3 separate regions of the Homo sapiens genome follow, and regions 2 and 3 are each linked to region 1. The links come from fine-mapping of genetic effects on gene expression. A gene starts in region 1. Each other region holds a variant in brackets. All regions are shown on one strand. Distances are from middle to middle.

Region 1 (2,500 bases):
TGAGAACGGATGCTGAGGAAGAGATTCTGCTTCAGGCAAAGAAAATGAGTAGAAAAATGCTAACGATGGCTACCAGGAAACGGAGGACTGGCATTGAATGGCAGCACAAAGGTTTCTGCAGTATCAGATGGAGTGGTTTCTCTTTCTTGAGGGGAACTAAGGGAGAGTACATATAAAAACATATTGTAAATTACATACCCCACTTATACCTCACAAACTTTTCGGATGGTTATTACCAACTCTAGTCTGCAGATGAGGAAATCTGTCTATTATCATCCAATTAAGTGAATGGCAAACACTAAACCTAAAATTAGGCTTTTAGCAAGTTTTCACTACAAATTACTGCCTCTCATATTCCCACAATGCCACTGTTTGTACTGAGTGAAAAAAAAATTACACAGATAGGTCATACATGTTCCAAGCTATAACTATCACAGATCAAAAGGGCATAGTCAGATCTTTTAGACTTTTCTGCTTTTACGAAAACCTGATAACTTCTTTAGCCAAAGTCCCCACGGTGGCGACCAGAGACTGCCTTTTATTTGGGAAGATCTTGTACGTTCTCCTCGCTCCTCCTGATTGGGTTAAAATGAGTAATGGCGGATAATTTTTAATTTGGGGTAGTGTTGCTAATAGCCACACTCACTGGAACGCAAGCTTCATGAGAGCAGGGTCCTAGCTTTGCGGATGGTGTTAACTACAGAATATTGCAAGCAACCAATAAGTATTTCTCTAATGAATAAATGCGTTGCGAATCCTATTTCAAAGGGCCACCTCCGCGTACCTGGTCTTAAGGGCACGCGACCGTTAAGGGCGCGCATGAGCAAACCATTTCATCGTGCCTACTTCCACAGCCAGCTGGGAAACATAGGACTAAGGTGACTCCGCGGTCTTCTTCGCGGATACCCTAAGCGTCTCTTACCTGCAGCTGCGTGCCTGTTCACACAAACCCGCCCGCCGACCCGTCAGCGGCTGGCCAAGCCTGCTGCGGAGGCCCAGCCAGCGAACAGCAGATACAACCGCCATCTTTGATTTCTCTGCAGAGCATGTTGGGAAAGCGTGCCTCGACCTTCAGGAAGGTGGGGCGCAGTGGGCGGGGAGCAGGGAACAGCTCCGCTATTGGCTGAAGCGGAAGAAGACGAAAGCAATCATAAAATGGGAGGTTGCAAGCTCATGGTTTGAAAGACTTCGTCACGGAAGCTAAAAGCTCTATACACCCGATTTGCCTCGGAGGAATTTTCCTAAATGATTATTTTGATGTCTTATATATCTTTGATTGTTTTCAAAACAAAAGAGCGAGCAGAGAGTCGTACAACTATTTGTTCCCCCCCCATGTAGAAGTGATCTCATCCACGTAAATGTCGTTCCTGCGACCGCTTCCGCGCGCAAGCGCACGTTGAATCGCGTGGTGACTCCGGGCTTGAGGTTGAATTAAGAATAGTCAGGTGGTGAGTGGAACGTCTCTTGGGGTGTCGGAATTCAAAACGGACCTGGAGGATGTTGATCTCCAAGAACATGCCCTGGCGGCGGCTGCAGGGCATTTCCTTCGGGATGTATTCGGCTGAAGAGCTCAAGTAAGGAGTTGGTCGGGTAGCGTGCCCAGCCTGGATCTTGAGGTCGGCGCCCTAAACTACGATTCCCAGAAGCGCTTTTGCCCAGTCTATCCTCTTGAGTCCAGGCTTGTCTGGCGCTTGTCCTGCTGGGAGCCGTAGTTCTGGGAACGTTCCTGGGCCGGCGTGGACTGCCTGGATAAGAGGCCGGTGGTGCTGGGGGAAAGAGTTTGCGCTGAGGTAGGGGAATATAAGGGTGGGGAGGGTCCTGGTCTGCAGCGTTATCATCTGCCAGTCTCCTCGTTAACTAACAAGCATTTGTGGAATTAACCATAGTGTACCTGACATGGTTAATTAGGCACGTAGTAAGTTTCCTCTTGTTTGTAAAATGATTGTCCTTCAAGTGTCAGTTCAGGCGTTAACTTCTCTTTGCTAGGACCCTGCTATATTCTCGGTCTGGTTGTTAAATCAAGGGAACTCTCTTTAGTCTTCATTTTGATCAAGGTAGCATTTGACATTCTCCAATGCACTCTCTTGAAACTTTCCTTTCTTCCAGAACCTTATTTGTCTTCAAGTTCTCCTATTTTTATGACAAATACTTCTACCTCCCTCTCTTCCTCTATCGATCTATAACCTCACAAACATTTATTGAGCATCCAGTTTTTTCCAGGCACCAAGCTAGGCGTTAATGACACATTGGTGAGCAAGGTCTGTACCTCATTTTACTCCTTAAATGTTGATGTTCTTCAAGATTCTATTCTAGTAATGTTTTCTTCATGGTAAATATTGTCCCTAGACAATCTCACCACTTTCATGATTTATAGTCTCAAATTTAAATCCCCAACGCAAATTTATTTCCCTGATTTTCAGACCCATTTGTTCAGCTGTCTGTACATCTTTAATTGAATTTCACACAGAGATCTTAAATGCATATCAAAAACTCAACATGG
Region 2 (2,500 bases), 58 kb after region 1:
ACTGAGTTTAGTCTGGTGGGAGAAATCAGGCCTGAGGTCGCCTACAAGCTTGTCTGTTTCACTTCACAGGCGTGGAAGACATTTTGGTGAAGCCAAAGGCAGATGTCAAGAGGCAACGTATCATTGAAGAATCCACCCACTGCGGGCCCCAGGTAAGGAGGGACTTCGAGGCCGTGGCCTGCCCTAGAGGGGTGAAGTGTGTGCTGAGTCAAAACCCACACTCTCGTCGTTTGGCCTCAGCCTCCGCTGTGTTTCTGTTCTCATTCTAGGCTGTCAGGGCTGCATTAAACCTGCCAGAAGCCGCATCATATGATGAGGTCCGAGGAAAATGGCAGGATGCCCATCTGGGCAAGGACCAGAGGGATTTTAACATGATTGATCTGAAGTTCAAGGAGGAAGTGAACCATTACAGCAATGAGATTAACAAGGTTAGCCCAGCATTGCATGCATTTATCCCCACCACTATGAATGCTGATTTTTAAAAAAATTACATTTTGATTCTCACCTGGGCCCTACAGAGCACCTTGGCTGTTGAACAGCTGACTAGGTGAGATGCGAGGTGGGATGGGTAGAACTCGTTGTTTTGAAGGGCCCAGGGCTTTGTTCCCTGCCCCAGTTAGGGTCTATACAGGCCTCAGAATAGTGCCAAGAGAGAATGCTTTGTGCTGTTTTTCTTTATAAATGTTTTTATTTTGGGGTGACTGCATTAAAGGGGCTGAATGGGGCCACCAGGGGTGAATAAGCAGGGTGAGGGACCCGGATCGCCCTGGCTGCTCATGCAGCGGAGCCAGGAGTGAAGGCTCAGGTTCCAGTCCTGGCTCTGCCTTGAACTTGCTGTGTGACCTTGGGCAAGTGAGATAACCAGTCCCTGCCTTGGTTTCCTCACCTGGAAGTGGGGCTGTGAGGGGCACCACCTCACAGGGCTGCAGAGAGGCTTCAGGAGCTACTAGTACACAATGCCAAGCCAGTTCCTGGGCAGTTGAGAAAGGAGAGGGGAAATCTCTGCATGAGCTGAAACCACAGCCTGCTTTTCTCTGCCTTTCTGCCCCAGAGCCAGGGTTCTCCATCCTGCTGCTTGGAGGAGCTGGCCTGGCCCTCACCCTGCCTCCTGGGCCCTGGGGCCCAGCCTGAGGAGTGGGGAGGAGGAGGCAATGCCAACACTCATCAAAAGTCAAAGTTCGTCTGTAGTGCTCTCTTGCCTGGCTTTTAGCATCCCTTAGGCTGCTGAGAAGACCGACTTCTCATGGGGACAGGTTCCATCCTTGAGGGGTTTTGTTGACAGGAGCTTTCCTAGCACCTCC[C/G]TGAGAACCAGGAAGCTCAGCTTCTAGGGCTGACTGGGGATGCTAGGAGTAGGGAAGTTGTCTTCAGATGCATCTCAGAATGGTTTCTTGTCCCTCCAGTTGCCCTCTTCCCACCACCTCCGCCCACCCAGGCTCTGCCTCTCCTGTGTTGGGCCAAGTCTGTGGAATTCCAGGCACAGGCTAGAAGCCCCAGACTCAGAGCCCCCTTCTCAGCATCTCCCCAGGATCCCCCTGAAGGGGCATGCTTGGTTCTGCTGGCTCTTGAGCCAAGACAGAGCTTCCTACATGGGGCTTGGGTGGCATGTTCGTAAATGTGACATGATGCGGATGTTGGTATTCACGCTGGGAGAGGACCCAGGCCAGGCTCTGCTGGGCGAATCAAGGGCATCACCTTAAATTTTATTCTTCTCCAGCTTCTTTTTAGAATCACGAACTGGATCTGCCAGCCCCTCTACTTCTCCTTTTCCTTCTCCCTTTTTGCTGCTCTTTGGCCAATGAATGAAACCTCGGGGATCCTGGCAGAGGAAGTCCAGCGAGTGCAGGGCAGGGAGCACCTGTTTGACCTCTCAGGGGTTCCAGGGAAGGATTAATGCTGAATGAGGCTTTCTCTTACCTCGAGTGGGATTTGGTACTTAGGTCTGAATAAATATTCTGGCTGTATTGCTTCTGCTTCCTGGATTTACATCCTGATTCTGGGATTTTTAAAGAAGGTGAAGTCACTGACCACTGTGCTGATTTAATCTGCAGGCATGCATGCCTTTTGGCCTACACAGACAGTTCCCAGAGAACAGCCTGCAGATGATGGTGCAGTCGGGAGCCAAAGGTTCAACTGTGAACACGATGCAGGTATGTGCAGAGGCGGGTTGGCAGCTTTACAGGTGTCAGCAAAGGCAGGTGGGGGATAGCAGGAGGTGGTTTCAGTTTGTTCCCTATAAAACATGACAAGTAAAAAGAGGAAAGCGTGTAGAAATCACTACAGGAGCTAACCACTGTTAACATGCCAATGTTAAAGGCAGATGTAGTTATGAATATGCAGATGGGATATGTATAACGTAGATATATATTACAAATTTACAAACTGTACTATTACATATATTCACGTTATATAGATAAATTATGTATACTCACACAATTTTTACGTAATTTTGCATGATTGTTTCTTTCTTTCTTTCGTTTTTTTTCGAGATGAAGTCTTGCTC
Region 3 (2,500 bases), 32 kb after region 1:
GCGCTTAAATTATTCTCCTCAGACTAACTGGTAGAAAAGGAGGCCTAGTCTCTATACCATTAAGGGAGTAGCAGAAGACAGGCAGGATGTTACTTTGCTCACTGGAAGACCTTCTTGGCCAAGTCAAACAGCTCCTCCACATCTTGGGTGAAAAGACAGCCTGTTGAGACAGATTTGGGGTCCATCAGACCTTTTTTTATCCCTGCCCTGAATTTCTACCTCCATTCCTCATTTCCAGGTGTTTGCCACAAAACTGACCTACCCACAGCCAGTTACCCCATGGAATGTTCAGGAACTTAGGCAAGCGGTCATCAACGGCCCTAATGTGCACCCAGGAGCCTCCATGGTCATCAATGAGGACGGCAGCCGCACAGCCCTGAGCGCTGTGGACATGACCCAGCGAGAGGCCGTGGCCAAGCAGCTTCTGACCCCAGCCACGGGGGCACCTAAGCCCCAGGGGACAAAAATTGTGAGTAAGGGCAGCTTTGGTCAGGGACCCATCCGGCTCCTGTTCGGATTCTGGTGATTGGTGGCCATCAGGTGTGGCTCCGGTGCGCACTGACACAGGAGCCCATCCCTAGGAGGAAGCTCCCCGACACGTGGGTGGCTTTTTAGATTCACCTTGTAGTCTCCGGGCAGAAGAATGGCTGCCCTTAAACAGGACTACTCAAAGGGCAGTCCCCAGACCAGCATCAGCAGCAGCCCTGGAGCTTGTGAGCAATGCACATCCCCCCACCTCTACTGAATTTGAATCTCTGAGAATAGAGTTCAGAATCTTTCTTTACCGTGCTTTCCAGGGGGTTCTTCTGCATGCTGATGTTTGAGAGCCACTCTTAGGAAGGGAGTGCTCTGTGCCAGTGATAACCAACAAATAACAGGTTATAACTAATGTTTCCATTTTGGGCAATTGCTAATGCTAGCCCATAGTGCTGTGGTAGGGAATCCTGAGGCTCTATCAGGTTCCACTGGAAGGAGCACATGATCGATTAACAATGTTGCTGAGTGCATGAAATCAGCAGGTGACAGCTCTGTGGCTCTGTCACATAATAGCCATTCCTGCTGGGAGGGGAGTAGCAGATGACCCCTAACTAGGCAACAGTGGCAGCAGTTGTTGGAGGGAAATGGATTCGACTTGGATGTAACCCACAAGTGACTACCGGAGTCAATAGGTGACTGCCTGGATTTTCCTCACCCACCTGCACAGAGGGCCTCTCCTTGCCCTCTGCCCACCCATACCCATGGCTGACCTGCCCTTCTTTAACACTGAGTTCACCTCTGCAAAGTTGCATCAGCCTTGAAGGAACTTTGGAGGAACCGAGAGGAAAAGGAAATGCTCCTGGCCTTGCGGCGGTGCCCATCACTGCTCATCACAGGCCTTCTTGCTTCCTCTCGTTCTCACCGCC[G/A]TCCTGAGGGGCAGCAGTAATACACTGCCTGTATTACTGTATTCTCCTTTGGTGACAGGGCACATGCAAACATAGATCAAGTCACCTCTTTTGTTCTTCTCTAGTGCACGAAGTAAGGTTTGTATTCAGGTTCGTAGAATCGGTCTGCCTTTCCTAAGTGCCTGGTGTTTCGCTAGGCACTGTGTGAGCAATGCAAAAAGAAGCAAGGTGTGTTTCACTTCACTTACATTTAACTCAGGTCAAACATGTGAAACAGACTCACAATAGGAAAGGATGAGAAAGAGACTAGGAGAAGGGGTGAGGGATGAGGCAGTACTGATGCCCCCTGCATGCTAGCACTTTGCAGTCCCTGCAGACGGATCCTCGCCACCCTGGAGTTGACAGCATGGTGGGGGAACCACTAGGAAGTAAGCATATAAATGTATTGCTGTTGCGGAGGGGTGTGGTAGACACCATAGGGAACAGCAGTGACAGACAGTGACTTTAAGCACATAATGTCCAAGAAGAAACAAGTTTGAGGGGAATGTGCAGGGCAAGTGGGCAGGGAGAGTTTGGGGTCATCAGGAGGCAACTGTGAGCCAGGTGCTGGGGCCAGCCTCAGGGCTAAAGAGGGGACTGAAGGCAGCGAATTCTTGCTGCTCTCTCAGGCCTTAGCAAGCCCTCATTCCTCTGGGGTCAGATAGTAAATATTTCTGTGGTCCTGGGCCATGCAGGCTCTGCTGTAGCTGCTCAGCTCTGCCACCTAATACCAAAGCAGCCACAGGTAGTACACAAACAAATAGGCATGGCTGTGTTCCAATCAAACTTTATTTACAGAAGCAGGTGGCCAGCCTGAGGACTGTAGTCTGCTACCCACCAAAACCTGTCATTTTTTTTTTTTTTATTTTATTTTTTTTTGAGACAAGGTCTCGCTCTGTCTCCCAGGCTAAAGTGCAGTGGTATAATCACAGCTTGCTTCAGCCTCCACCTCCTGGGCTCAGGTGATCCTTCTGACTCAGCCTCCCGAGTAGCTGGGACCACAGGTGTGGCTAGTTTGTGTATTTTCTGTAGACATGGGGTTTCACCATGTTGCCAAGGATGGTTTCCAACTCCTAGGC

Evidence for each region. PIP is the estimated chance that this variant, and not a neighbour inherited with it, causes the effect. A credible set is the group of variants that fine-mapping cannot tell apart.
Region 2: its variant is the best candidate, but not a certain one, in a credible set for the expression of POLR1A in skeletal muscle (GTEx, PIP 0.69).
Region 3: its variant is the best candidate, but not a certain one, in a credible set for the expression of POLR1A in prefrontal cortex (BrainSeq, PIP 0.70).

The regions. Positions count from the first base shown.
Region 1 is chr2:86,104,774-86,107,273 of GRCh38, reverse strand. POLR1A (RNA polymerase I subunit A) reads left to right here and starts at 1,388. Exons shown (of 34, transcript NM_015425.6): 1 at 1,388-1,574. The coding sequence starts at 1,498. PTCD3 (pentatricopeptide repeat domain 3) reads right to left here and starts at 1,039. Exons shown (of 24, transcript NM_017952.6): 1 at 923-1,039. The coding sequence starts at 1,026. RefSeq lists enhancers at 729-988, 1,369-1,578, 1,779-1,868.
Region 2 is chr2:86,046,812-86,049,311 of GRCh38, reverse strand. It overlaps POLR1A (RNA polymerase I subunit A), which reads left to right. Exons shown (of 34, transcript NM_015425.6): 17 at 70-152; 18 at 270-428; 19 at 2,049-2,147. Among named protein-coding and RNA genes, the nearest start is that of POLR1A, 58 kb to the left of the region's middle. The variant C/G (reference allele first, on the strand shown) is at 1,302.
Region 3 is chr2:86,072,999-86,075,498 of GRCh38, reverse strand. POLR1A (RNA polymerase I subunit A) reads left to right here. Exons shown (of 34, transcript NM_015425.6): 12 at 239-469. Among named protein-coding and RNA genes, the nearest start is that of POLR1A, 32 kb to the left of the region's middle. RefSeq lists enhancers at 1-457, 458-958. The variant G/A (reference allele first, on the strand shown) is at 1,404.